Linked DNA regions of Homo sapiens: all the other regions are linked to region 1. The links come from fine-mapping of genetic effects on gene expression. A gene starts in region 1. Each other region holds a variant in brackets. All regions are shown on one strand. Distances are from middle to middle.

What was found. PIP is the estimated chance that this variant, and not a neighbour inherited with it, causes the effect.
Region 2: its variant is the best candidate, but not a certain one, in a credible set for the expression of NME8 in whole blood (INTERVAL, PIP 0.57).
Region 3: its variant is the best candidate, but not a certain one, in a credible set for the expression of NME8 in neutrophils (BLUEPRINT, PIP 0.51).
Region 4: its variant is the best candidate, but not a certain one, in a credible set for the expression of NME8 in whole blood (TOPMed, PIP 0.54).
Region 5: its variant is the best candidate, but not a certain one, in a credible set for the expression of NME8 in whole blood (TOPMed, PIP 0.55).
Region 6: its variant is the best candidate, but not a certain one, in a credible set for the expression of NME8 in whole blood (INTERVAL, PIP 0.76).

What each region holds. Positions count from the first base shown.
Region 1 is chr7:37,845,592-37,850,667 of GRCh38, forward strand. NME8 (NME/NM23 family member 8) reads left to right here and starts at 3,006. Exons shown (of 18, transcript NM_016616.5): 1 at 3,006-3,137; 2 at 3,233-3,465; 3 at 4,669-4,708; 4 at 4,787-4,844; 5 at 5,038-5,076. The coding sequence starts at 4,676.
Region 2 is chr7:37,540,185-37,545,260 of GRCh38, forward strand. No RefSeq gene overlaps it. Among named protein-coding and RNA genes, the nearest start is that of ELMO1, 94 kb to the left of the region's middle. The variant C/T (reference allele first, on the strand shown) is at 2,092.
Region 3 is chr7:37,825,361-37,830,436 of GRCh38, forward strand. No RefSeq gene overlaps it. Among named protein-coding and RNA genes, the nearest start is that of NME8, 21 kb to the right of the region's middle. The variant A/G (reference allele first, on the strand shown) is at 2,090.
Region 4 is chr7:37,547,401-37,552,476 of GRCh38, forward strand. No RefSeq gene overlaps it. Among named protein-coding and RNA genes, the nearest start is that of ELMO1, 100 kb to the left of the region's middle. The variant A/C (reference allele first, on the strand shown) is at 2,831.
Region 5 is chr7:37,803,665-37,808,740 of GRCh38, forward strand. No RefSeq gene overlaps it. Among named protein-coding and RNA genes, the nearest start is that of NME8, 42 kb to the right of the region's middle. RefSeq lists an enhancer at 1-446. The variant G/A (reference allele first, on the strand shown) is at 3,128.
Region 6 is chr7:37,591,564-37,596,639 of GRCh38, forward strand. No RefSeq gene overlaps it. Among named protein-coding and RNA genes, the nearest start is that of GPR141, 90 kb to the right of the region's middle. The variant G/C (reference allele first, on the strand shown) is at 2,609.

The sequences.
Region 1 (5,076 bases):
TTACACCTTCCTTCCATGTATTGGCCACTGGTAAATGTTTGTTCTAATTTGAGAATACATTGAAACTTCTTGCATCAAAGTGTTATATGAAGAATTTGCCTGAAATATTTGCATGAGCATTTCACCATGTGAACTATTGTGTTGAATCAAAGAAGAATCAAAAGTCAGTTTACTAACAGTCTGACTCTGGTGAAATAGCAATTATAGGAAATACATAAAACTTCTTTGAAAATAGCAGATGGTTTTAGACCCTTGAGGAATCGCCACACTGTCTTCCACAATGGTTGAAATAATTACACTCCCACCAACCGTGTAAAAGCGTTCCTATTTCTCCACATCCTCTCCAGCATCTGTTGTTTCCTGACTATTTTTAATGATCGCCATTCTAACTAGTGTGAGATGGTATCTCATTGTGGTTTCGATTTGCATTTCTCTAATGACCAGTGATGAAAAACTTTTGTTCATGTGTTTGTTGGCCTCACAAATATCTTCTTTTGAGAAGTGTCTGTTCATATCCTTTGCCCACTTTTGGATGGGGCTGTTTGTTTTTTTCTTGTAAATTTGTTTAAGTTCCTTGTAGATTCTGGATATTAGCCCTTTGTCAGATAGATGGATTGCAAGAATTTTCCCCCATTCTCTAGGTTGCCTGTTTACTCTGATGATAGTTTCTTTGGCTGTGCAGAGGCTCTTTAATTAGATCCCATTTGTCAATTTTGGCTTTTGTTACCATTTGACCCAGCAATCCCAGTACTGGGTATATATCCAAAGGATTATAAATCATTCTATTATAAAGACACATGCACATGTATGTTTATTGGAGCACTATTCACAATAGCAAAGACTTGGAACCAACCCAAATGCCCATCAACGATAGATTGGATAAAGAAAATGTGGCACATATATACCATGGAATACTATGTAGCCATAAAAAACGACGAGTTCATGTTTTTTGCAGGGACATGGATGAAGCTGGAAACCATCATTCTCAGCAAACTAACACAAGAACAGAAAACCAAACACCGCATGTTCTCACTCATAAGTGGAAGTTAAACAATGAGAACACGTGGGCATAGGGAGGGAAACATCACACACTGGGGCCTGTCAGGGGGTGGGGGGCTAGGGGAGGGATAGCATTAGGGGAAATACCTAATGTAGATGACAGGTTGATGGGTGCAGCAAACCACCATGGTATGTGTATATCTATGTAACAAACCTGCACTTTCTGCACATGTATCACAGAACTTAAAGTATAATAAAAAAAAAAAAAGGAAAGAAAATTGCAGATGGTGAAGTGAAGGAGTACTACATGTCCTGTCTTGATAGGATATGATCCTGGTCAAAAATCCTTCTGTAGGTAGCCGTGCTCATCTATTAGGTCCACTCCAGGGATGAGGATCCCTACAAAAAGGTTCATTGTGTCCCTCTCTACTCTACAGTTGCTTTCTGTATCTCAGCCTGTGGATTAATCAGAAACTATTGTGAAAAATTATTTCCAGATGCTGCAAGTGGGAGGGAGGAAGGAAAGTAAAGAGAAAAAGAACGAAAGAGAAAGAAAGAAAAAGAAGAGGAAGAAGAAGAAGAGGAAGAAGAAGAGGAAGAAGAAGAAGAAGAAGAAGAAGAAGAAGAAGAAGGAGACGGAGGAGACGGAGGAGACGGAGGAGACGGAGGAGGAGGAGGAGAAGGAGGGGAAGAGGAAGGAGAAGAGGAAGGAGAAGAGGAAGGAGAAGGAGAAGAAGAAGAAGACGAAGGAGACGAAGGACACGGAGGAGACGGAGGAGACAGAGGAGACAGAGGAGGAGGAGGAGAAGGAGGGGAAGAGGAAGGAGAAGAGGAAGGAGAAGAGGAAGGAGAAGTGGAAGGAGAAGAGGAAGGAGAAGGAGGAGGAGGAGAAGAAGAGGAAGAGGAAGAGGAAGAAGAAGAAAGAAGAAGAAGAAAGAAGAAGAAGAAGGAGAAAGAAGAAGGAGAAGGAGAAGGAGATGGAGGAGACGGAGGAGGAGGAGAAGGAGGGGAAGAGGAAGGAGAAGAGGAAGGAGAAGGAGAAGGAGAAGAAGAAGAAGAAGAAGGAGATGAAGGAGATGGAGGAGACGGAGGAGACGGAGGAGGAGGAGGAGAAGGAGGGGAAGGGGAAGGAGAAGAGGAAGGAGAAGTGGAAGGAGAAGAGGAAGGAGAAGAGGAAGGAGAAGGAGAAGGAGGAGGAGAAGAAGAGGAAGAGGAAGAAGAAGAAGAAAGAAGGAGAAGAAGAAGAAGAGGAAGAAGAAGAAGAAAGAAGAGGAAGAAGAAGAAAGAAGAGGAAGAGGAAGAGGAAGAAGAGGAAGAGGAAGAAGAAGAGGAAGAAGAAGAAGAGGAAGAGGAGGAAGAAGAGGAGGAGGAGGAGGAGGAAGAGGAGGAAGAGGAGGAGGAGGAGGAAGAGGGAGAGGAAGAAGAGGAAGAGGAAGAGGAAGAAGAAGAGAAAGAAGAAGAAGAAAAAGAAGAAGGAAGAAGAAGAAAGAAGAAGAAGAAAAGAAGAAGAAAAGAAGAAGAAGAAGAAAAGAAGAAGAAAAGAAGAAGGAAGACGAAGAAGAAGAGGAAGAGGAAGAGAGAAGAAAGAAGAAGAAGAAGAAGAAGAAGAGAAGAAGAAGAAGAAGAAGAAGAAGAAGAAGAAGAAGAAGAAGAAGGAAGAAGAAGAAGAAGAAGAAGAAGAAGAAGAAGAAGAACAAGAAGAAGAAGAAGAAGAAGAAGAAGAAGAAGAAGAAGAAGAAGAAGAAGAAGAAGAAGAAGAAGAACAAGAAGAACAAGAAGAACCAAACCAGGGTAGATGAAGACAAAGTTAAAAAGAAAGAAAAGGCTGGTGCTGGCAGAGAGCCTTCTGCTCCGATTTGAGGTGTATGCATTTTATGCTGTAAAGCGTGGCCAGTCACAGGAGGATTCAAAGGCGAGGAGAGATATGATCAAATCTGCACTTGGGAAAGCGCACCTTGGTGCGCATCTGGGGATAGAGGAACGTAGGGATGGGAGGATGGGGGATGGGAGTTTGGGGATGAGGCAGCTGAAGAACAGAGTCTTGTGATGGTGGAACCAGGACTTCGTTGTTCCTTCATTGTGTGGGCAGAAGAGGTGGAGGATTTTAGGCGCCACCTGGTCTTGTCCCCACTGCCCAGGTATAGCTGCTGTCTGGAGCAGGGGCCTCGAGACGCCGCTCAAGTCTCACGGGCAGATGGGTTGGACAAAACATTGCCCCCCTTCTTCTTCCCAGACAGGCAGGGAATCCCTCTTCTTCCTTTTGCTGAATCAGCTGGAGAAGAAAGCCCAGCAGGAGGCCTGCTAGCCTCAGCCTCGGGCCCTACCAGGGTCCTAGGTACTGGAATGGAACTTCGCCGAGGTCACCGCTCAAACGGCCACAACGAGGGAGCCGATTTAGATCCTCTGGGCCTGTTCCTTCCTTTTCTTTAAACGTCCCAGTCTAGCTTAGAGGAGGACCTGTTTTGTGTAAGGCTTGCCGGAGCAACCAGCACCTTTCCTGGAATACAGTCTTGTTTGTGGCTTTTCCTTTGTTGTACGCTAGCGTGCACTATCGCCCGCACGCTGACTGACCCCTGTTCTACACCGCCCCTGATACCACTGAATAGGGAGTTTGAGAAGTTTATGTCGTGCCCCAGAAAACACTAGTGGCCTTGTTCTCAAGATTAAATATCCTTAGAGCAGCCAGATCTGAAGAGGGACCCCAGAAAGATCCACGGGCATGTTCATTTGTTTGCAATTGATAATATAGGAAACACTTTCTAATATTTCAGGAAAACAAAACCTTTAAAAAAACCAGACGACGTGTAACTCCTAACATTCTTACCTTGCTTCAGGACTGTTGGGAGGATAAGATAGTGTGGCAGCTATAAGCATTTAGCATAGAGCCTAGCATACAATAGTCCTTCCATGACATTAGCTTCTCTCTCCCCAGCAAAGATGACACTGCATAATCCAATGTACAGTGGGGAAATTTTTCACTAGTACATTAAGATGTTATTTGCAGTTAGAAAGAATGAATACTGTAATCCCAGCACTCTGGGAGGCTGAGGTGGGAGGATCACGGGTCAGGAGGTTGAGACCATCCTGGTTAACACGGTGAAATTCTGTATCTACTAAAAATACAAAAAAAATTAGCCCGCCGTGGTGGCGGGTGCCTGTAGTCACAGGTACTCTGGAGGCTGAGGCAGGAGAATCGCTTGAACCCAGGAGACGGAGGTTGCAGTGAGCCCAGATTGTGCCACTGCACTCCAGTCTGGCAACAGAGTGAGACTATGTCTCAAAAAAAAAAAAAAAAAAAAAGAACAATGAATAAGACCTAGTATTTGCTAGCACAAACAGGTGACTGCAGTCAAAAAATCTAAATTGTACATTTTAAAATAACTAAAAGAGTATAATTGGATTGTTTGTAACACAAAGGATAAATGCTTGAGGTGATGGATACCCCATTTACCCTGATGTGATTATTATGCATGGCATGCCTGTATCAAAATATCTCAGATTTAAATACACAAATATTTAAGTACATAAATACAGAGATACATAAATATATACACCTACTATGTACCCACAAAAATTAAAAATTGTTTTAAAAGATGTTATTTGCATGCATAAAGAAAATGTTATTTAAATTTCCTACTTAAAAATTTTTCTTTCTTTTTCCTATGATAGTAGATAAATGGCAAGCAAAAAACGAGAAGTCCAGTTACAGGTGGGTCTGACATATCAACAATTCTTTATCTGGTGCACTAGTGCTTGAATACCTTTTACAGTGCCTTCCACTTTGCAGACAGTCATCAATAATCAAAGCCTGTGGGATGAGATGTTGCAGAACAAAGGCTTAACAGGTATAAGGACTCCCCGGCTGTCTGGCCACCTGGGGTTTGACCCGGAGCTCCTCCTGGCACCCTGTCCCTCTAGAGTCCCCACTTTGACCAAGAAATCCTGCAGTGCCTTTGCCCTGGCCATGGCTCCAGATTGGGATAACTGCTATCCTAGATTGGTAGACTTTGTTATTTCATAAATATCATCATCTTCTAGTGATTGATGTTTACCAAGCCTGGTGTGGACCTTGCAGAG
Region 2 (5,076 bases), 310 kb before region 1:
TTCTTATAACAAAAAACTGGTGTCTCCCAGATTTTAAGTATTGGTCTACATCACTACTCTTGACACACATGGCCAAGAGTAGACTCTAGTAATATACAGTATTGTTTCATAATACCTAGCAAGCAGAATTTTTGGCCTAGTTTTTTTCCCTCACATTTCTCATCATAACACAGGAGCCAGATGACATCTTAGTCCCTTGCCATGTTCTGTGACAGTGGGGGAAGACCCAGCTTACAAGACAGCTGGTTCTATTTTTCCAGGTGAGGTCTCAATGTAAAGAAATGGCTGTGGATGAAATGAGAAGTGGAGGTGGAATGTACCAGTTTCAAGGTAGGGGATATGGTTGGCTATATGATGAATTTTAGATTTCCTTGGTGTGTGCAAGCAGTATACATCATTAGAACAAGATAGGATAGGGGCAACAGCGTCTGAAGATGTGAATGGTTTCTACCACTTGTTGTTACTGTGAATGCTCTTCCTGTGGATTGAAATTCAGAGGCTATAAAGATGACATTTAAGAAATGACCCCTTTTGTGCATTATCTGTTGCAAGTTGGGAGAGGAAAGTTTCTTTTTTTATATGTTTAGTTGACACCTAATAATTATACATACTTATGGGGTACAGAGTATTTCCATACATGCATATGATGTTTAGTGATCAAATAGGTAATTAGCGTATCCATCAGCTCAAACATCGATCCTTTCTTTGTGTTGGGAACATTCAAAATCCTCTCTTCCAGCGTTGGACCACATACAATAAATGATTGTTAACCAAATTCCAAATTCACCCTGCGGTGTGAAGAGGAAAGGTTCTTTGTCGGACATTATTCCAGGGCACTTACTTGCTGGCGTGCTCCCTGCCTCTCCTGCTCCATTCCTCAGCTGCCAAGTGCTGGCAGGGTTGTGTGTGCAGTTGCAAGTTGTCACTTGGGTAATAAAGGAGAAGGAGCATAGCTTGGCAGACTCTCCGACATGGCCATGTGCATCCTGCGCAAATAGAATTATGATTAATGACTAGCCTGGCAGCTGAATTGGACTAGAGAACTTGGCCGAGGTCAAGGTAGGCCCAAGGAGCAGCCTGGGTGAGGCTGTCTGAGGGCGGAGATGGCGCAGATGAGGGGCAAGGCCCAAAGGAAGGCAGGCAGGGGGTGCTGATTACTTGGGGGATCCTGTGTAAGGAGGGGATCTGCAGAGCAGGGGAGTTGGGAAGGGTGGTAGGGATCTGAGCCCATGTCCTATGCACAAGGCCTGACTCCTCCTGTGGCCAAGCTTGAGCTGCTCTGCTGCCTTTGTAGGCTGCTGTGTTAGTTTCCTCCAGCAGCCATAAAAGTTACCTCCATCTTGATGGCTTAAAACAGTTATGAAGGCCAGAATTGAAAGATGAGATTATTGGCAGGGTCTCACTCCCTCCTAATGCTCTAGGGTAGAACCCTCCCTTGCCTCTGACAGCTTCTAGTGCATGTCAGCATGCCTCGGCTTCCCTGGATGCATGGCTCCAGTGTGCCTCAGTGGCCACAGTCCCTCCTCCTCCTCATGTGTCTTCTCCTCTTCTGTCTGTTACAAAGGTACTCGTCATTAAATTCAGTGCCCACCTGGGTAACCCAGAATGATCTGATCTCTTCATTACTTCTGCAAGGACCCTTTTTTTGAAAGAAGGTCACAGTCACAGGTTCCAGGGGTTAGGAAATGGACATAATGTTGGGGACCACCATTCAACCCATTACAGTTGCTGAGAGAATTGTGAGGGCCTAAATCTGTATTGGTTTTTAAAAAACTTTTTTTTTTGGTTTCAGTTGAGACCACACATATTCACTGGGCTTGAATTTGCATGTGGTGTTCAGTGGCAGGCAAGCCAGCTTTCAGGATGTCTGTTATCCAAAGCTACACTCTTAGGGCACCTCCAGATGACTCTCGGGCTTTCCAATCTGATCTTCTGCTTCTCCCCCTCCACGTGTGCCCTTCATCTTGTGGTAGGCAAATCAGACTCAATACCTACGGAGAAAGCAAAGGACATCAGTGACCATCTAATTCACATGTGTTACAAATGATTGACACAACTCTAACTGACTCTGCCCTAGACTCCTAACAGATA[C/T]TAATTATCTACTGTGACACCAGTTCAGACAGAGCCTATCTATGATGGTTAATTTTGTGTCAACTTGATGGGGCCACAGGATGCCCAGATGTCTGATGAGCATTGGAATTGGTATGCTGGGGAAAGCAGACTTCCCAGTGTGGGTGGGCCTCATCCAGTTCATTGAGGGCATGGATAGAACAAGAGGGTGAAGGAAGGTTGGATTCACCCTCTCTCTGTCTGACTGCTTGAGTTGTACATCAGTCTACCGCCTGCTCCTAGTTCTCAGGCCTTCGAACTCAGACTGAAATCTACACTATTGGCTCTCCACCTCTCAGGCCTTCAAAACACAGTGCTGGAATTCCTGGGTTTCCAGAAAACACAGCACTGGAATTCCTGGGTTTCCAGAGTGCAAATAGCAGATCCTGGGACTTCTCAGACTCTGTAATCAATACGTTATAAGAAATCACACACACACACACACACACACACACACACACACACACACACACACACACACACACGTTCTATTGGTTCTGTTTCACTGGAGAACCGTGACTGATACAGAGCTTCAGACCTCTCAGTCCAGGCCTCAGTAGCTGCTGTCATGGGTTAGGGATAGCACACAAAATGAAATCTCTGCCACTTCTGACCCAAAACGAGCCTCATTTCATAGATAAGGAAACTGGGGCCCATGGAGGATGAGATAATTGAAAGGTGGTTGTCTATTCAAGTGGTATTTTAACATTTCATTTCCCATGTCAAAAAAAAAATAAGATGAACAGCCTGTAGATTTCCAAATCAGGATTTTTTTGACTTTAAAAACACCTAATATTGAACTGATTTTCTTCATATTTTTTAATAGCTTCCCAAGCCACATAGAAACCTGGAGCCTGTCACCCTACCAGTGTGACTTATGACATACTGTACAGCCACTCTGTTCCATAGCTTTCAGGATCCATCTGTTAGCTCATATAAAACAAAATTTCTATTAAATGGGATTTTAGAAATATTATCATGGCCCAAATTGAACATCATGTGATGGAAAACAAAACATATGTTGGCAATTTTGCTTTTGATTATTGGATTGGGGTGATTTGAGTTCCAAAGGGGAAAGAAAGAGCTCCTCTCCAGACCTCATTGTGATCCTGCCAGAGTATTGTTCCTAACACCTCCATTTATTTTTAACAATTATTGTAATTATTACTTTTATACATTATAAAAGTAATATATATAAATAAATTAAGAAATTCTTTTAATCATTTACATTTTATTTTTAATTATTATGGGCATATAATGGTTGTATATATTTATGGGGTACATGTGATGTTTTGATACAGTCATACAATGTGTAATGATCAAATCAGGGTAATTGAAATGTCCATCACTACAAGTGTTTACCATTTCTTTGTGTTAGGAAGATTCCAATTTCACTCTATTAGTCTGTTCTCATGCTGCTAATAAAGACATACCTGATACTGGGTAATTTATAAAAGAAAGAGGTTTAATTGATTCACAGTTCCACATGGCTGGCAAGGCCTCACAGTTGTGGCGGAAGGCGAAGGAAGAGCAAAGTCATGTATTACATGGTGGCAGGCAAGAGAATGTGTGCAGGGGAACTGTCCTTTTATAAAACCATCAGAACTTGTGAGAATTATTCACTGTCATGAGAAGAGCACAGGAAAAACCTGCCCTCGTGATTCAGTTACATCCCACCAGGTCCCTCCCATGAGGCATAGGGATTATGGGAGCTATAATTCAAGATGAGATTTGGGTGGGGACACAGCCAAACCATATTATCTACTTTTTTAGTTATTTTACAATATATAATAAGTTATTGTTAACTATAGTTGCCCTATTGTGCTACTGAATACCAGACCTTATTCATTCCGTCTTAACTGTATTTTTGTACCCATTAACATTCCCCACCTTGTCTTCCCCTCTCTGCTATCTTTCTCAGCCTCTGGTAACCATCATTCTACTCTTTATGAATTCAACTTATGTTTTTCTCTTAGCTCCTGCCCATGAGTGAGAACATGTGACATTTATCTTTCTGTGCTTAGCTTATTTCACTTAACATCATGTTCTCCAGTTCCATCTAAGTTGTCGTAAATGACAGGATCTCATTCTTTTTTATATGCCTCCATTTCTTGAGAGCCATTCCCATCCAACTCTGAGTGGCTAAAATGCTGACTTCCTTAGAAATTTGAAATTCTCCCATTTAGACCTGTTGTTAAAAAAGAACAGCTCAAAAACATTATATTTGATACAGCTTTTCCAATAACAGTTCTTTGGGCTGCTACAATTTGGAGAAAAGTTGAGAAAATAGGAGTGAGCATTTCAAGTTTGAAAAAGAAAAAGAAGAAATAAGGCTAGAATTCATTGTTAGCTTGGTCTGTTTACTCCCAAGGATAATGCCTATTTGATGCAATTGAGCAAAGGGACATTGATGGGGGGATTCTGAGGCAGAAGACTCCAATTTACAATATTCAAGGGGCCATATACAATATTCTGTCGAAGCCTCTACAATGACCCTATGAGATAGCTGCTGTTGTTTCCATTTTACAGAGGAAAAAAAAGTATGAGAAAATTATTTGTCCAAGGTCAGCTAGTAAAGGGCAAGGGAAGTAATGGATTTACAGTGGTGTCTTCTAATTAAGCAAGGTATCCCAGTAGGAATTCATGGTAACTCCTGATGCTTTTCTTATTCTTGAATAGGACATTTCCCTAGGGGAAAACGCTACAAGTAAATTAGAATCAAATGTTGAGGAAAGGAGCAGAGGAAAACTATCATGGGACCCAAGATACAAAAAGGCAAATAACAGAGAAGGGGTTGGAGGACTGTGTGATAAACTGTATTCCCTTCACCCCCACACTCCAGCTAATCTGATTTTGTAAGTTGTACAGGCGTTGTTAATTACATTTTGACTATATTTTGAGTAATGATTAGAACTACCATACTAGGTGCTTGGCAGTATCTAGGATTAAATGTCTCGTTTTTAATTC
Region 3 (5,076 bases), 20 kb before region 1:
TTTTGTATAAGGCCCAAATTTATTATCAGGCTTATTGCACTCCCTATGCTGCAGCCAAGCTTGCCTTTCCAGGCTTGTCATGCCCTCACATGAATTCCTCACATCAGGTAAAGCATCAAATCCACAGGCACCTCCATACATCTGGCTCTCCCATCCCTGTGACTACACTTACTTCCTGCTGCACCTTGAAGTCCCTTCCCCCAAAATCCCTTTATCTCCATCTTCCTCCCTCTATGCTCCATGCTCAGCTCCACCTTATTGTGTTCTAGTCTTACCTCTAGTCCTTTATGGACAGTGGCGGGAGTGATTAATTACTCCTATGCATCTGTTGCAAGAACTCATATGCCAGGATTTCAGGATGCTCCTTTTCTATCTCCAGACTGATTATGAGACTCCTCTTAACCAACTCCCCTGTCATCTTACCTGTGCCTCTATTGCAGTGACTGTCATTTGGCAAGCTATGACATAGTACCAGACAGGGAAATCATAAAGAGAGAAAACTAAATTATACTTCTCTCTGTGTCCTCATGCTCTAGAATAATGCCTTGCTGTTCAATAAATATTTGCCAGGGAATAAATGAATGAAGAAATAAGCTGAGCAATTTCCTAACATTTTTCCCTTTAGAAAACAGAAAAAAAGGTTGAAATCTGAACTCATACCTGAACCAATCCCAGTTGACCATTTTCTACTAGTGACATTAGTGTTGCCATTGAAATAGTATAAACATAAAATGAAAGTTTGATAAAGTCACCTCTGATAAAAATACATAATATATAACATGTATAACATCACAGAATATATATTATATACATGTGTATTATAAGAGCTGTCTTTTTTATCTTATATATGTATATACATATCTTACATATACATGTATGTGTGTATATACATGTGTGTGTATATCTATCTATAGATACACACATGCACACATATATACGATAAGAAAGGAGCTTAACAGGCAGTGATATGTAGATTTCTCTCCAATGAAGCCTGAAATTATTTTGCGTGAACAACTACAAATGAGATGTGTTACTTTTACTGCGGACTGTTTACATGAGCATAAACTGGATGCTTTAATCCTTTGTTATTTTTTCTTGCATTTCATACAAATTTTTAAATAGTTGTGATTACAGATTGACTGGATAAAGTCACGGCCAATGGATATGGATTTTTAAAATGGTAACATTTTTGCACCACAGGGATCCTCAAAGATGCTTGTAATAGAAATAATTTGCATAAAGACGCTAGAAAAGTTATTGAAAATATAAGCTATTTAAATACATAAAATGGAGAAAAACAATATATGGAAAGGCTGTATTTTTTCTTTCGGTCATGCTAGAGGAAGCGCCCCTCCTCTCATCTGACGTATTTTCTTCACCTGCACCTCCCATCTTCTATTTCTTCAACTTCTACTCTCCTGACTGTTAAAAATCAGCATTTAAATATAGTATTATAGTCAAACTTCTTCCTCCTTGTTTAAAAAAGAAAAACGAGCCCTCCAGCACTCACATTTTTTGGGCAACTGTCTCTTCTCTGTTTCCATTTCTTCACCCTTACGCTTCTGGAAATAGTTGCTGATTCTGTCTCCACCTCCTGTCTTTATAGTCTCTCAAGGGACTTTCCCAGACCACGCTACTGAAGACACTCTTATGATCACCACTGGCATCTTTGTTGCTCAGTCCACGTGAGTGACATTTTATTTGGCCAGATCTTGTTTTATTTGGCCACTCTGTAACACTTGGCAATAGTATTGCTGCCTCAGCAGCATCTCATTCTTTGATTTTTATGACATCACTTCTTGGTTCTTCTCCTGCCTTTTTGGCTGTTCCTCCTCATTTTCCTTCATCAGCTTTACTTTCATGACCTGTTCCTGAAAGTTGATGTTCCTAGCGTATCCTCCTGGACCCTCACTTTCTCAAACTACACAAATTTCTTGGCCATCTCCTCTGCTTCTATTCCCCTAATGTGCTGATTATCAACACATCTATATCTCCAGCCCAGGTATTTCCTAAGTATCTTTCATATCCAGTAGTCTCCAATGTGTTGTGTACGCCTTGCCTGGGGTGTGCAATATAAACCTATGAGGCT[A/G]CACAAAGAAAAATACATGTATATTTTTGTTGATTTTCTTATCTGAAATATGAGAAAAGATAGTGCTAATTTATTAATGGTTATCATATGCATCATCAGTAGTGTCCTCAATGGCTTTTCGTCCTCCTGTTTCCAGTTCGCACGGACACACTTTGTCTCTGGTTTTTCAACCACCACACATATGCAAAGGTACCAGGAAGCTCAAGGTTTGTTGAGTGTCTCCTACAAGGAGCTGGTCACATAGGAACATCCCAGCTATTGGTCAGCCTTGACCATTAAGCTCCCTCTCCCTCCTTATCCCTGGGCTCCAGCAAAACCAGGTGGTATAGGTCTAAATCCAGTTATTATTCCTGAGCAATGCTGATAAACTGGTATGTCCACTCCAAAACAACTCGCAAACCAATGGTTACAGAATATTATTTACTGGTTATCTCATGGCAAAGTTCATTTTTATTTTGTAAAAATAAAATGTTTTAAATTTGAGGACACGTGGCTGTCTAAATTTTGCTATCTAAGAGGTATATTTGAAAAAATTATCATCATTATCTATTCCCCCAAGATTAAAGTGATGTTTTGAAACAGTGAAAAAATTACTGCTTTTTGAAATAACTCATGGTGAGGAGGTGGAAATGTATGAAAACCAATATTTGAAATTTTTCTATAATTAACATGGCTTAATAGTGAAAATGAGCATGACTTATAAACCCGCTCACAATTACACCCTTAAAATACCTTAGCATCACAAATTTTCTATTGTGTTAAAAAATTTCCCCAAAAGTTACATTTTTAAGTCATTTGTCAAATGCAAACCCCTCCCATTTATTTGGTAGAAAAAGCAATTTAGATTTTTTAGGATGTTGAAAAGTTACAGAGTAATTGTAACAAAAGTCTTTTCATAATTTTTGGAAGATACTGAAAGATAAATATCTTTTGTTTTAAATGGCATTTTCTTGTGAGAAAGTATTTTCAGCATTGAAATAAATTTAAAACTTAGAAGCAGGCATTTGAATCACTCCATCACACAATATTAAATCAAGATTTCAAAAACAATGAAATCATATTTCAATTACATTTCTCACTAAATATTAATAACATTAATATTTGTTTAAGCATTTAAATATTAATAACATTAATATTTGGAGAAAGCCATGAAGTTCTGAACTAGTACGTAATAAATAAGACGCAACAAGTAAAAAATAGCATATATTTATATATTTAATCAGATCATAATCTGAGTTAACGTTTTTGTTGTTTTTTAACTTTTTTTTTTTTTTTTTTTTTTGGTAGAATCAGGGTCTCACTATTTTTCCCAGGCTGGTCTTAAACTCCTGGCTCCTGGGCTCAAGTGACCCACCCACCTCAGCCTACCCAAAGTGCTGGGATTACAAGCGTGTGCTACCACACTCGACCCATTTTTGGTTTTGTTTAAGCATTATAACATGCAGAAGTGATGAGTAATAGGAAAAATATTTAATCTATTAAGACATAAAGATATCTAATTTGATGTGCAGGTTTAAATAGTTTTACTGGTGTAAATGTGTTGTCAGGTACCTCCTAATCCTCTTGTGGATCCATATACTTTCTTCTGTTTTTCCTTCAGTCTTGCAGCAGACCACCCATCTCACTTTGATTCCCCCAGTTTTTCTGTTTTTCCATCCTGTCCTCTCTCCTTCAACCCATTCTCCAGTCCCAGTCAGAGTAGGGTTTCTAAAATGTAAAAATGAGCAGTCACTTTGCTCAGTAGAAGGCTGCGGTGGTTTTGCTTGCCCTCAGGCTGTATACCCAGTTCTTCATACCTCTCCCAGGCTCCTCCAGATCTGCCTCCTGCTGACCTTGTACCCAGCTGCAGCGACACCGAGCTCCTCACAGCTTCCCAAAGTGGGCTGGCCCCTCTCACGACAGGGTCATCGCACAGGCTCCCTCTGTGGGGGAACACAACGGGAGTCATTTCAACACCACTTTCTTCAGGAAGCCTATTCTGATCCTTGGTACTCCAAGCAGCTGTTGTCAATGCCTACCCCAGGTGATACCATGCCATACTGATTTTATTTTCCTGGATACTTAATCACAGGTAAAGTCACTGAGGCCACACAACCCTGAGGAGAAAATGCTTGAGCAGGCAGGATTTTGATGATATTTTGTGGATGATACTCCATTCTCAAACTGCCTACATTCACACTTCTTTTCACCGAGAGAAAATTAAGCCACTATGCTTTTAAACCATTCTTACTTGGGTTTTGTGTAACATGCAGCAACATGGAATTATTACGGATACAATTGGTTCTGACTTGTATGGATACACTTATAGAAAAACGTGTGAGGATATATTGAACAGCAAAGTACTGATTTTTTTCTTATTTTGATTTGTCTCTGATGAACACATATTTCTTTATGTAAATGTATTAGAAGGAATTAATAAGAATATGTTGAGGAACAAATAAATTGCCAAATCCCAGTGGCGTAGCACACTGATGGTTGATTTGTCCGTCACACAAAGGCCCATGCAGGTTAACTAGGGCTAGCTCGAGCCAGTGACTCAAAGATCCAGGCTCCTTCTGTCTTGTGATTATTAAGGGTAGTAAAGAAAAGAGAATGTGGCGGTGGCAGACCCCCTGCTAGAAACTGAAGGTGCCATTTCTAGTCACAGGCCACTGGCTAGACTACATCACATGACCTTGCCTGTCAGGAACTAGCATTGCAGACTTACCAGCATGACCGAGAAGGAAATGAGAGCATATGTAGGGAAGCACGCATTGTCTCTACCAAAATGAAAATGGAAGTTTAAAAATGCAAGTACTCATGGGAAAGGTAACACACTGCACATCTTAGCCACTGTCTTCCCTGACTGCAATGGCAGAGGGTAGAAGGGGAGGGAAGAGGTGCGCATATATGGAGGCGCATGTAGATTCTTTACAATTTGTCTCAGGTGAGGAAGGGTTAATGTGTGTGCTCAGATGTGCCAGTGAGTAAAGAAAAGAGTATGTTTT
Region 4 (5,076 bases), 300 kb before region 1:
TGGGGACATTTAAAATCTCCTGCTATCCAGATCAGATTTCAGACTAAATAAATTAGTCTCTGGGTGTGGGATCCAGGGATTAGTATTTCTAAAAGCTGTCTAGGTGATTCCAGGGCACAGGTCAATTCAAGAACCACTGTACTCAGTGGTAAAATCCTGATGAGAGTGGGTATAGTCATGAGCATTACCATAGTGCTTGGTATAAATTGGCATGCAATAGAGCTCGTGGATTGAATGAGTTGAATGAATGAGGCTTTGGCTTTGCAGACCCTGAACTTTGGTTGCCAGCTCACTCTTGGGGCTATTAACCAAAAAGTGACTGAGGCAGATCTCAATAGATAGAGGTTTATTTAGCCAAGGTTAAGGATGTGCCTGGGAAAAAATACAAGTCACAGGAGCATCTGTGACCTGTGCTTTTTCCAAAGGTGGTTTTGGGAACATCAGTAAAGGGGAAACAATAAGCAGGAAAGAAAAAAAAGGAAGAGGAGGCAGGTGGTTACATTCTTGGGAGGCTCTGATTAGGCTCAGTAAATCTACAGTTTACATGTGAAAAGAGGGGCTAGAGAAAAAGTCAATTATATATCGTCTTCCACTCAGTAAATCGTACACTTTACACAACATAAAGTGAATGTCCAGTGCAGTGGCTCACACCTGTGATCCCAGCACTTTAGGAGGCCCAGGTGGGAGAATCACTTAAGCCCAGGAGTTTGAGAGCAGTCTGGGCAACAAAGCAAGACCCTGAGTGTTAAAAAATAAAAAAAATTAGTCAGGCACAGTGGTACATGGCTGTAATCTCAGCTACTTGGGAGGCTGAGGCAGGAGGATCCCTTGAGCTCAGGAGATCAAGGCTGCGGTGAACTATGATTTTACCACTGTCCTCCAGCCTGGGTGACAGAGCAAGACCCTGTCTCAAAAACAAACAAACAAAAAGCTAAAGCAAACATGTGAAAAGAGGGAATAGAGGGAAAAGCCAGTTATACATTCATCTCAGGGTAGACAGAGGGATGATTTCTGGTCTTGTCCTTGTCCTGTGAAATTAAACAAGCAATTGACATTGTCAGAAAGTAATTCAACAGAATTTGGTTTTAGGGTTAGTTTATGGGGTGATATATATACTAAAGCAGGGGTTGGTCCCCAGCCACCAGTCCATGGACGGGTGCCATTCGGTGGCCTATTAGGAACCGGGCCACACAGCAGGAGGTGCGCTGTGGGCCAGGGAGCATTACCGCCTGAGCTTCACCTCCTGGCCGATCGGCAGTGGCATTAGATTCTCATAGGAGCACGGACCCTATTGTGAACTGCGCATGTGAGGGATCTAGGTTATGTACTCCTTATGAGAATCTAACTAATGACTGATGATCTGAGGCGAAGAGTTTCATCCCAAAACCATGCCTCCCCCTTGCCCCAATCCGTGGAAAAATTGTCTTCCAGGAAACTGGTCCCTGGTGCCAAAAAGGCTGGGGGACTGCTGTCCTAAAAGATTTAGGGGCTCACAGGGAATTTCCTTGTGAGCAATTTCTGCAGGAGGCCATTGGGGAGGTATGTGGCCTTCTATTGTCCAAGCTTAACTTTCCCTTTGGTGTAGTGAGTCTGGGATCACGAGATGGTATTTTCTTTCACAGAGGATCAGGCCTTTGGGTACCTGAGGCCCTGACATTTCTCTTCAGCAGAAACCAATTCATTTGATTTTCAGAAAATGTGACCAAGTTACCCAGGTACCTTTATCACCCTTCCTGCTCCCCAGCTCCCCACCATCAGCCCATTCTTTTCATAGGCAGGAAGCCTATTTAGAAAGCCAAATTAAGATTAGATAAGAAAAGGAAGGAAGTTGAATGTTGTTTTTATTTGGCTCTGATGCCCAGAAAACGTCAATTTTGTGCTATAAAGATCCCTGAAACTGCATATTCTTGACATTTGAGATGATTTATCTGAAAGCGCTTTGAAAACCATAAAGCAGCATTACTGTTATTACTGCATTTCACTTATTCCCATAACAAGGCTTCATAGGGTCTTTATGATTGCCATAGGTAATGGGAATTTAAGGGGCAAAAAGGGCAGCCACTGCCCCCGGGGGACAGAGTGGGGTGGAGTGTCCCGTGCACAACTCATTGGCATGCAAGGTGGGAAGTCCAGGAACTGGGAACTCAGGGAAAGGAGTGCTACTCCATGCCTCTTTCCTCTGGATTCTGAATGCCTTAAGGGCAGAGGCCAACCTATTTATCCACATTTCCTCAAGGTCTGATGTAATACTTGGCACATAGTAATTATTTGAATGATGAAGATAAATTATGGGCCATTTGTTAGTTAGGATTCTTTGAGTTCCAGGTAATAGAAAACCAGCTTGAGTCCGTCTAAACATGAAAAGATTTATTGGAATGATCAGGGTGGTTTAGAAAGTCAACACCACCATCAGAATAGAAAAACAGCACCTAAAAGCAGAACCTGGGGAAGGCTGTGCCCAGGGCTCTTCTGAGAACTTCTCATGCCGAAACCTCGGGCACCCGCAGGGTCACTCAACCTCCACTGCTCTTGTTTGTGTTGTGTTCATTCTCTCCTCCTGCAGGTAAACTGGGGATATGCAGTGGGCACAGGTGAGAGAGAGGAGTTTGGCGGCACTGGTTTCCCAAGACACAGGACACAAGACCCCTCCAATAAAACAGGATGCAGTAGAGAAGCTGAGCAAAACCTACCAAAACCAAGAAGGCAACAGAAGTGGCCTCTGGTTACCCTTGCTGCTCATTATATGCTAATTATAACACACTAGCAGGCAAAAAGGCACTCCCACCAGTGCCATGAGGGTTTACAAATGCCATGGCAACCTGGCACCCCA[A/C]TCCCCACCCCCAATAAATTACCCGGAAAACTCATGAATAATCCACACTTTGTTTAGCGTATGATCAAGAAATAAATCATAAAAATAGCCAACCAGCAGCCCTCAAGGCTGCCTTGCCTATGGAGTAGGCACGTTTTTATTGCATTACTTTCTTAATAAATGTGTATTCACTTTACTCAGTTGGCTTGCTCTTGAATTCTTTCCTGCATATAGCTAAGGACCCACTTGGCTTCCTGGGCTGACCCCAATTTTGGGGTTTGCCCTGTGACACAGGGGAAGCTGGTGGTTCTGAACTCAAAGTTTTCGAATCTTATCTCAGGAGAGGGAAGAGCTGTCTCTTCTGAGCTTTATTTATACCACCCGGGGGGAAGGACTCTGGCCCAGGAGGAAGAGGTCACCAGTCACTGAGATAGACTACAGGGGTGTACATGTGAGAGCACGGTATGGGGGAAGAGGCTCCTCAAAGAAGGCAGATTTTCCTAGAACAGCACCTGCTGGCATGTAGTGGTTATAAGAGACCCCCTGACTCCAAGAAAGCAGATAGGATTAACAGGCTGTGACTCTTAGTTGCAGAATTTTTGGAAAGGTTCAATAAGGTCTAAATGTCCCTCTGTAGATAGACTAAATTATAAAAGTGAAGGAGAACTTTTGCAAATCCTAGGCTGAAAGCCCTTTGTTTATAAATCATGCTTACTTGCTTTTATGTTTCTACCAAAATTAGGATGACATTTGTTCCAGAGTGTCCCAAATCTGATAAGACAAGATTATGACTGTAACTTTTGGCCTGAATGAAATAATAAGAGTGCAGAGACGGGTGCCCTGCCCTGGTATGAGTTGTTCTGATGACTCACAGAGTTTTGGTGGCTCTAATCGGTGCTCTAGCATCTCTGGAGTTAGATGGCTCTGCAGCTGAAGAAGCCTCAATCCAGGGGTGCAGGTGCTATTTAAATATTTCCTGGTACTTCCTTTAATAGGGCATGGGAGAGTGAGAACCTTGAATAAGTCTCTATTTCTTATTATAGTTCTGAAGTTTGCAGTTTATTGCAAACAAAAGACTCCAAGGTTGTCTTGCTCAGAATCAGGAGGGCTCTGGTTGGTCTTAGACCAGTGGTGTTTCCACGGTTCTTTCTGATGATCCAAAGTTCTAGAAATTGTTATGCACATGTCTAATTGAAGAGACAACCTGAACAGGCTAAATGTGAGCAACAAGGCTGTTTATTCACTTGGGTGGAAGTGGGCTGAGTCCGAGAAAGGAGTCAGCGAAGGGTGGTGGGAGGGGAACTGGTTTTATAGGTTTGGGGTAAGTAGTGGAAAGTTATAGTTAGGGGCAGTTTTTTTGGGCAGGGGAAGAATGTCACAGGGTGCATAGTCACAAGGTGGGAGGAGGTCACAATGCACGATATCACGGGGTCAATTGATTATTTAGGGTAGGGCAGGAATATATCACATTGGTGGATTGTTGCAAGGTTGGTTAATCAGTTAAGGCAGGAACTAGCTGTTTCTTCTCCTTTAGTGCTTCTCTTGTTGCTCCAGGCTTTGTGACTGCAGGAGGCCTGTATGTGTGGGTCACAGGAGTCACAATGGCTCAACCATTGTGTAGCCTGTTCAGAGGACCTTACAGAAACAAGGCAGAGAGAGCACTGGCTTCCCCCAAAGTGAAGAATTGGAACTTGCCTCTCTGACAAGAAACTTCTGTGAGAGTTGGGACTGTGGAGGAAGTGACAGGGCAAGGATTCTGTTCCTGAAGGTTTTCACACTGGCTGTGCACGTTTGGGGTGGCAAAGTGATGCAAGGGACAGAGGTCATTGAGTCCTGTTCACAGGAGGCCAAACATTGCAGACAATGCATGGAAAGCAGAGATTCCAGGAACAGAGTAGATCCAGAACAGGTCCTCGACCCTGTAGTAGGAATGAACAAAGAAAGGCCCCAAAGGGGATTTGAGATCTGGGTCCAAGAGACTGAATAGAAGCTAAGGTGGCTGAATAGAGCTGTCAGCGGGAGGGCTGAGTCAAGAATACAAATGATAGTTGGGTAGATAACCAGGTTGGGAAAATGAGCTGGGGGTAGACTTCTTTACATTTTCTCAATTGTGGTCGCCTAGGCTAGTGACCCAGGAAAACACAAAGGCAGTAGCGTTCATATAGTTCTTTTTAAATAAGGCTGCTTTCCTGAGGCAGGCTTTGCAGCCAAAGTTCCCATGCAAATTTCCACTGAGTGTTGCCACATTTTAAATAGGGTTCTTTGGT
Region 5 (5,076 bases), 42 kb before region 1:
ACAGATAGACATATATGCATAAGATATACACATAAGTATACATAATTGAATGCATAGTTGCTATTATTATTTTAAACAAACTGTGCTGTGGAGTGAATGAAGACACTGATTGTTTTGCTTGTACCTCCAGCACACTGAAGCCACCATATTCAAAGGAGTCCAGTCTGTCTTCCTGGTGAGCCCCTGACCTCTCTGCTCTTCATCCCCTGGCTTGGACCTGCAGCACAGCCATCCTACTTCCACCTGAATGTTCTCATTGGCAGCAGCTCCATGTCTTTCTGGGGTGGAGTTCCCCGAGGCAACTGACAGCCCCCTATAACTGCCACTGCAGTGGATGCCCACCCTTGCTGCCACCAGACTGGGCAAGGAACAAAGAGCCCGAGTGCTTTATTCACACCTCCATGCCACAGCTGCTCTATGGAGAAGAGGCCAGACTGATTTTACAGCAAGCCTCCAATCCTCCAGCTCTTCACCGGGAAGGGCCGCCTGGCTTGAGGCCCACAATGCAGCTGCCCCACCCCCAGCTGATCATTTTGATTGGTAGCAGCTCTGTGCTTCTCTGGGGTGAATCCTTCAAAGACAAGTGAAAGGCCCTCTGCCATTGCCACTGTCAAGGTCCCCACCCCTGCCACCCCCAAGCTAGGGAGAGAACAAAAAGCTTGAGTTCACAAAGGGGCTACAGTGCACAGCCTGGGAGTGCCAAGCTGAGATATATGGCCAACACTTGAGTGGGAGAGGGGCCCACACTCTCAGAGCACTGAGAGAGAGCATAGCTGCAATTGAGGAAATACAGAGGAACCATGTGGCTGGGTAAGAGCCTATCTACCAGCCATTACGGTTAAGTGCCATCTACTGGATGGAAGCCCAAACTTTAACACCAAAAATACATTGCTAACATACCTCCCCATAAAATTAAGGACAAGAATTCAGCCACAAATAAAGACCCTGCACAAAGCATCAGCCCTCTGAAAACATCCAGAAACAAATTCAACTGACTGTACTCAAATTACACCACAGTTAAAGGCACATCAGCCCACACAGATGAGCAAAAACGCAGGGAACTCTAAAAGCCAGAGTGTTTTCTTATTCCCAAATGACCACACTAGCTCCTCAATGATGTAGGAGTTAAAAAGAAATTACTTAGGCAGACAGTGAGGTAAGAAAGTCTTTAGTAAGGTTTTCCTTTTAATGAAAAGCAGCCCCCAAATCATTTTCTTTTCTAACAAAGAGCAACCTGTAAAATCGAGCTGCAGACATAGAAAGGCAAGCTAGAAGTTTGCACGGGGAAGTGATGGCAGCTATGCCAGTAGGAAAGGAGCTACCTGGGGACTAGGCATGTTCAAAATGTCAGCTCCTTCTTTCCTTTTCTTTGCCAAACCATATGTACAGTAAGGCGAAGACAACATGGCGCTGACAGGGCAAATATCCCATTTGCATAATAAGATTAGGGTGGGGAAGCCAGCTTCCTCACATGCTATGTAAATGTCACCCTAGTCTAATCAATCTTTGGGTCCTATGTAAATCAGACACCGCCTCCTCAAGCTTTTTTATAAAATCCTGAGCACTCCACTGTGGGCCAGAAGTCCCATTTGGGCACCCCTCTCTAAAGCAGGAGAGAGAAGTGTTCTCCTTTTTCTTTCTTTTGCCTGTTAAACCTCCGCCCCTAAACCTACCTCTTGCATATGCATACTTGATTTCCTTGGCATGAGATGATGAACCTTGGTTATTTACCCCAGACAATGATGCCGCTTCACCAGTGATGGTTCTCAACCAGAATGAAATGGCTAAAATGACAGACATAGAATTAAGAATCTGGATAGCATTGAAGATCATTGAGATTCAGGAGAAAATTGAAACTCAATCCAAGGAATCTAAGAAATCCAGTAAAGTGATTCAAGAGGTGAAAGGCAAAATAGGTATTTTAAGAAAGAACAAAACTGATCTGATAGGGCTGAGAAACTCACTAAAAGAATTTCATGACACAATCAGAAGTATTAACAGTGGAATAGACCAAGCTGAGAAATGAATCTCAGAGCTCAAAGCACAGTTCTTCAAATTATTTTAATTTCAAACTATTTTAGTCAGACAAAAATAAAACAACAAAGAATTTTTAAAATGAACAAAACCTTTGAGGAATGTGGGACTGTGTATAGAGACCAAACCTACAACACATTGGCACCCCTGAAAGAGAGAGAGAGAGAGACCAAGCAACATAGAAAACAAATTTGAGGATATTATCCACAAAAATGTCTCCAACCTCACTAGATAAGTCAACATTCAAATTCAGGAAATTCAGAGAACCTCTGTGAGCTACTTTACAAGACAAACATCCCCAAGACACATAGTCATCAGATTCTTCAAGGTCAATGCAAAAGAAATTATGTTAAGGCAGCTAGAAAGAAGGGGCAGGTTAACTATAAAGGGAACCCCACAACATTAACAATAGACCTTTCAGCAGAAACCCTACAAGTCAGAAGAGATTGGGGGCCTATATTCAGCATTCTTAAAGAAAAGAAATTCCAAGCAAGAATTTCATATCCAGCCAAACTAAGCTTCATAAGTGAACGAGAAATAAAATCTTTTTCAGATAAGCAAATGCTAAGGGAATTAGTTACCACTAGACCCGCCTTACAAGAGTTGCTTAAGGGAGTGCTAAATATGGAAGTGAAAGACCACTAATGGCCACCACAAAAACATACTTAAGTACATAGACTATTTACACTGTAAAGCAACTACACAATCAAGTCTACCTAACAACCAAGAACATGATGACAGGATCAAATCAGCACACATCAATATTAACCTTGAATGTAAACAGGCTAAACACCTCACTTCAAAGGCAGACTGGCAAATTGGATAAAGAAACAGGACTCATAGATAGCTCTTATTATTTTGAGATACGTCCCATCAATACCTAATTTATTGAGAGTTTTTAGCATGAGGGGTTGTTGAATATTGTCAAAGGCCTTTTCTGCATCTATTGAGATAATCATGTGGTTTTTGTCTTTGGTTCTGTTTATATGCTGGATTACATTTATTGATTTGCGTATATTGAACCAGCCTTGCATCCCAGGGATGAAGCCCACTTGATCATGGTGGATAAGCTTTTTGATGTGCTGCTGGATTC[G/A]GTTTGCCAGTATTTTATTGAGGATTTTTGCATCAATGTTCATCAAGGATATTGGTTTAAAATTCTCTTTTTCAGTTCTGTCTCTGCCCGGCTTTGGTATCAGGATGATGCTGGCCTCATAAAATGAGTTAGGGAGGATTCCCTCTTTTTCTATTGATTGGAATAGTTTCAGAAGGAAGGTACCAGTTCCTCCTTGTACCTCTGGTAGAATTCGGCTGTGAATCCATCTGGTCCTGGACTCTTTTTCGTTGGTAAGCTATTGATTATTGCCACAATTTCAGCTCCTGTTATTGGCCTATTCAGAGATTCAACTTCTTCCTGGTTTAGTCTTGGGAGAGTGTATTTGTCTAGGAATTTATCCATTTCTTCTAGATTTTCCAGTTTATTTGCATGGAGGTGTTTGTAGTATTCTCTGATGGTAGTTTGTATTTCTGTGGGATTGGTGGTGATATCCCCTTTATCATTTTTTACTGCGTCTATTTGATTCTTCTCTCTTTTTTTCTTTATTAGTCTTGCTAGCGGTCTATCAATTTTGTTGATCCTTTCAAAAAAACAGCTCCTGGATTCATTAATTTTTTGAAGGGTTTTTTGCATCTATTTCCTTCAGTTCTGCTCTGATTTTAGTTATTTCTTGCCTTCTGCAAGCTTTTGAATGTGTTTGCTCTTGCTTTTCTAGTTCTTTTAATTGTGATGTTAGGGTGTCAATTTTGGATCTTTCCTGCTTTCTCTTGTGGGCATTTAGTGCTATAAATTTCCCTCTACACACTGCTTTGAATGTGTCCCAGAGATTCTGGTATGTTGTGTCTTTGTTCTCATTGGTTTCAAAGAACATCTTTATTTCTGCCTTCATTTCATTATGTACCCAGTAGTCATTCAGGAGCAGGTTGTTCAGTTTCCATGTAGTTGAGCGGTTTTGAGTGAGTTTCTTAATCCTGAGTTCTAGTTTGATTGCACTGTGGTCTGAGAGATAGTTTGTTATAATTTCTGTTCTTTTACATTTGCTGAGGAGAGCTTTACTTCCAACTATGTGGTCAATTTTGGAATAGGTGTGGTGTGGTGCTGAAAAAAATGTATATTCTGTTGATTTGGGGTGGAGAGTTCTGTAGATGTCTATTAGGTCCGCTTGGTGCAGAGCTGAGTTCAATTCCTGGGTATCCTTGTTGACTTTCCAATATCATACTGAATGGGCAAAAACTGGAAGCATTCCCTTTGAAAACTGGCACAAGACAGGGATGCCCTCTCTCACCACTACTATTCAACATAGTGTTGGAAGTTCTGGCCAGGGCAATCAGGCAGGAGAAGGAAATAAAGGGTATTCAATTAGGAAAAGAGGAAGTCAAATTGTCCCTGTTTGCAGACGACATGATTGTATATCTAGAAAACCCCATTGTCTCAGCCCAAAATCTCCTTAAGCTGATAAGCAACTTCAGCAAAGTCTCAGGATACAAAATCAATGTACAAAAATCACAAGCATTCTTACACACCAATAACGACAAACAGAGAGCCAAATCATGAGTGAACACCCATTCACAATTGCTTCAAAGAGAATAAAATACCTAGGAATCCAACTTACAAGGGACATGAAGGACCTCTTCAAGGAGAACTACAAACCACTGCTCAAGGAAATAAAAGAGGATACAAACAAATGGAAGAACATTCCATGCTCATGGGTAGGAAGAATCAATATCGTGAAAATGGCCATACTGCCCAAGGTAATTTATAGATTCAATGCCATCCCCATCAAACTACCAATGACTTTCTTCACAGAATTGGAAAAAACTACTTTAAAGTTCATATGGAACCAAAAAAGAGCCTGCATTGCCAAGTCAATCCTAAGCCAAAAGATCAAAGCTGGAGGCATCACGCTACCTGACTTCAAACTATACTACAAGGCTACAGTAACCAAAACAGCATGGTACTGGTACCAAAACAGAGATATAGATCAATGG
Region 6 (5,076 bases), 250 kb before region 1:
AGCAAACACCACAGTCCATAGTCAGGACTTCTAGTCACACACAGGTGAATAGGAATTCTCTTTGGATAATGAAAGTACATTTGTGGTCAACTAAACCATCAACTTAAAATAGCAGCATACAGTCCAAAATCTCCAAAAATTTTTAGAAAACTACTAATGTAAACAGAGTCACCAATATTATGAAAACACAAGAACTATGTGAGGAAGCAGAGTTAATGGGGGATGCAACAGAAAATATTTACAAAAGAGGGCTCATAACTTGTCAAGAATGAGACAGAATTCTGGTCAATTAAAAACAAACAATAGGTAGATTAGATAGGGTAGTTGCCTTGGGTAAAGATGAGTTAGTGGTCTAAGAGACAGAAAGAAAAAGTCTCCCAGAACTCACTGCAGAAGGAAAAGTAGGCCGATATGGTTTCAAGAGGTTGGCCCCTGACTGTGCAACAAATTATTATCTGGGGCTTTGATGTATCAGTAAAGCTGGTGTGCAGGAAACTCCAGTTGAGGTGGGTTTTATATATTAATAGGGTTGGCTTAACTTTTTGTAGGAATTCATTTGTTTCATGTCATTTCCTTTTCTATGCTAAGGTTTTATGGCTGACCAAGAAAGTAAGAACCTAGGTATGGTTGACAGTGTGAATGGACCATCAGCCTCCACCATCTCCTGCTCACCATGGTTGAGCAGGTCATTTCTAAATACCTTCTGGTGGATGGCCATATAATCTGGGGCTCAGAACTGCTTTACCTGGCACCTAGTGAGGAGGAGGAGGCAAACTCAAAATACCTGCTCTGCTGGGGCTGATGCAGATGTTGTGTTTTACTAGGGAAGCTGTTAATTTTATGATAGCAAATCTGGACTGTTTATAGACAAACTCGTACAGGAGTTTGCAACAATTTCACAGCTCAGTTTGATGTTTTGGCAGATGTTATGGGAGCATTCTGCAAGATCATTAAAGCAGAGCTGTGGCAGAGTAGACATCCCCAGGGAGCCACCTGACCAAAGCGACTGCATTGCAGCTTGTCTGGACATGTCCCCAAGATGGGTCTTGTCTGAAAAAACCTTCCTTCATGTGATAAATAGGTGCTTTTCCCCTAGAGTTAACTTATGTGAATAAAGATGCTTATTTTTATGACAAAGTTTTCTAACATAACTGTGGCACATGTTAAAAGGAAGTTACTATTAAAAGAAATTTATTATTTTGGGGGAGCCACTGGCAGCCAAAATGGAGGTCTCTTTTATTTTGGAACATTTTGGGGAAAGGGATGAGAAATTGAACAGAGAGTAGGTTTCAACATTTCAAAAAGTGTGAGTTTTAAAAAGCCTTTATATAATGAGTCCATTTTGTTCACAATGATTCAGTTAAGGTAGAGACTGTTGAATGATTTACCAAGACCCTGACACTTAAAATGGGTGAGTTTAAGTGTTGTATTAGTCTGTTTTCATACTGGTGATGAAGACATACCCGAGACTGGGTAATTTATAAAGAAAAAGCGGTTTAATGGACTCACAGTTCCAAGTGGCTGGGGAAGCCTTACAATCATGGCAGAAAGCAAAGCAAAAGGCATGTCTTACATGGTGCTGGGCAAGAGAGAATCAGAGCCAATCAAAAGGGGAAACCTCTTGTAAAATCAACAGATCTTGTGAGACTTGTTCACTACCATGAGAACAGTATGGGGAAAACCACCCCCATGATTCAATTATCTTCCACTGGGTTCTTCCTACAACATGTGGGAATTTGGGGAGCTACAATTTAAGATGAGATTTGGGTGGGGACATGGTCAAACCATATCAAGTGGCCTTCAAGATTTTATGATTGGCTACAAACACTCAGCCTCCTAGTCAACCCTCCCAGGTCCCTAGATGTTATTGAGGCAAATTCCAAAGAGGCTTGGAACATTTTTGTGCATGGCACCAGACATGAGAACAATTGGCAAGGCCCACTATGTAACAGTTGAAGAAATGAGAACCTTTAAGTTAAAGGCAAAATTTGAAAAGTGTTAGAGCAACATTTAGATGAGATGTTTATTCTGGCTAAATATACGTATTTTTAAGAGACAGGGTCTCACTCTGTTGCCCAGGCTGGAATGTGCAGTGGTGTGATCATGACTCACTTCAACCTCAAATTCCAGGGCTCAAGGAATCCTCCTACCTCAGCCTCCCAAGTAGCTAGGACTATAGGCTCACACCACCACTCCCAGTGATACAGTTTGAATGCTTGTCCCCTTCAAATCTTATGTTGAAATGTGATCCCCAGTGTTGGAGGGGGGCCTAGTGGGCAGGTTTGGGTCATGGGAGCAGATCCCTTACCAGTGGCATTGCGCTGTCCTCATGGTAATGAGTGAGTTCTCACTCTGTTAGTTCACATGAAAGCCGGTTGTTTAAAAGAGCCCACAACCTCCTCCTCTCTCTCTGCTCCCTCTGTCACCATGTGACACACCAGCTTCCCTTGCCTTTTTGCCATGAGTAAAAGCTCCTCAAGTCCTCACCAGAAGCTGAACCGATGCCAGCATCATGCTTCTTGTCCAACCAGCAGAACTGTGAGTCAAATAAACCTCTTTTCTTTATAAATTACCTAGACTCAGTTATTCCCGTATAGGAACACAAAAC[G/C]GGCTAACAAAACTGGCTAACTAAAAAAATTGTTTTGTAGAGATGGAGTCTTAAATTCCTGGCCTCAAGTGATCCCCCCATCATGGTCTTCCAAAGCACTGGGATTACAGGCATGAGCCACTGCACCAGCCTGGCAAAAGATTTTAACATGGGCTCTGCCCAGTTTATATACTCAAAGAGTGCAGAGAGTTTTTTGTTTTTTAACCCAGATGAGCTTCAGAAGATCTGCACTCACGCTCCCAAAAGCCCCTGGTCAAGAAGTGTGGCAATGTGTTGGTGAAATTTCTGGAGTGGCCCCCAAAGTTGAACAATTAGATCAAGATCTAATTGTGGCTTTCCAAATAATGATTTGAAACCTTTAGCAGTCTAAAGATGAATAAAACTGGATTCTCTATTACAATCCCCAAAAATACTAATATGGCTTTCTAAATAATGATTTGAAATCTTTAGCAGTCTAAAGATGGATAAAACTGGATTCTCTATTACAATCCCCAAAAATACTTTAACATTTGTTTGCTTCAGAAGTCTGCATCTGACTATGTTTCACTAGATTGCAAGTTGGCAAGCTATAGCCCACAGGCAAAATTTGGCTTGCTGCCTGTTTTTATAAATAAAGTTTTATTGGAACACAGTCATACCCATTCATTGTGTATTGCCTATGGCTGTTTTGGCTTTACAATGGCAGAGTTCAATAGTCGTAACAGAGCTCATATGGCCCAGAAAGCCTAAAATACTCACTATCTTGCTATTTATAGAAAAAGTGTGCTGACTCCTACCTATAGCATCCCAGAACATGATACATGCTCCCTGAACATGTTAGTTCAAACTAGGGCACAAGAGTGGGGAACAACAATTTGGTACAAAATGTGAATGAGTGCATTGGTATAGATAAAACTAAGCTAAGCAACTAAACTATAAACTAAACTCATACTAAACTTTGTTCTGACCCCACCCTGTGGTGCCTCTAAAGCCTGCTGGGGTCACCGTTATGTTATCATCAGGGACACTCTGGTCCTGTTACAGAGAGTAACTATGGATGTGGAGTCTACCAGCATCCTAGCTGTATGAGATTTAATCCTCTGCATATCCACATATTTATGATGTAGCATCGGTTGGCTGGAAATCATCCTGTGCCACCGATGAGGTATGTCCTGGCTGAGGCACATCTCATCACCAACAACACATGAGCCAGGAGCTACGACATGGTGAGAGCCTCACTTTTCACACTTCTCACCATAGCTGGTAAGCAACCATCCTTTCAGCAGCAGCAGCATCACAATAAAGGCTGAGCAGGACCAACATATATTATTGAGAGTTGTACTTTGAAAAAGATGAACTATTTAATAGAAAGAAAAAAATGTGGCTTTCTAAATAGAGGAGAATTGTGGATTCACACATATTCATGGAACACTAAATATGTGTGGGGCTCATTTGGAGGCTTGTTTTGAAGGGCATGCAGGGTGACCAGCCATCCCTGCTTGCTGGCTAGCTAGGGGTGCCCTGGCATGTAGGGCTTTCTGTGCTAAAACTAGAAAAGTTCTAGGCAAACCAAGACAAATTGGTCACCTTAAGATCATTTCTTTTTATTTTTTATTTATTTGATTTATTTATTTTTTTAAATTTTAAATTTTTGTGGATACATGGTAGGTGTATATATTTTGTATATATTTATGGGGTACATGAGATACTTTGACACAGACATGCAACGCATAATAACCACATCAGGGTAAACAGAGTATCCATCACCTCAAGCATTTACCTTTTCTTTGTGTTACAAACAATCCAGTTATACAGTTTTAGTTTTTTTGAAATGTACAATAAATTATTGTTGCCTGTAGAAGGTAATGCCTTTTTAAAGAAAAAGTCTTGAGGTCACTAAAAAGCATTAAAAATAATCCTGGGGAGATGTGTTGGTGCATACTTAAAAAGCCACACACATTAAAAATATAGAAAAGAAAGAAATAGAAAATTAAGGGGTGGGTTTCAAGACTCCTGATGAAACTTAGGATATTTATGCCTCAGAAGAGCAAAAATCCCCAAGTGAACAAGTTAGCTTTTTCAGACTTCATAGGGGACACCAAGAGGAAGAGAGGAGACATCAAGATGAACAAATTATTCCTCCATAGATGTCTTACTCATCTCAGTCTGCCATAACAAAATATCATGGATGGAGTCTCTCTGGTGTCTCTTCTTATAAGGCCACTAATCCCATCATAAGAGCCCCACCCTCCTGACCTCACCTAAACCTAATTAGATCCCAAAGGCTCCAGTTACCATCCGTTTTTCTCCAAATACCATCACATTGCAGATTAGGGATTCAACTTATGAATTTTAGGATGGCACAATTCAGTCCATAGCAACAGGTTTTATTTAATTTTTTTTTAAATAGTAAATTTTAAAAAGATCTTATGCAAATGTCACTTGTACATTGAAGTTCAAAAATACCAAGTTAGATTTGGACCTTTAAA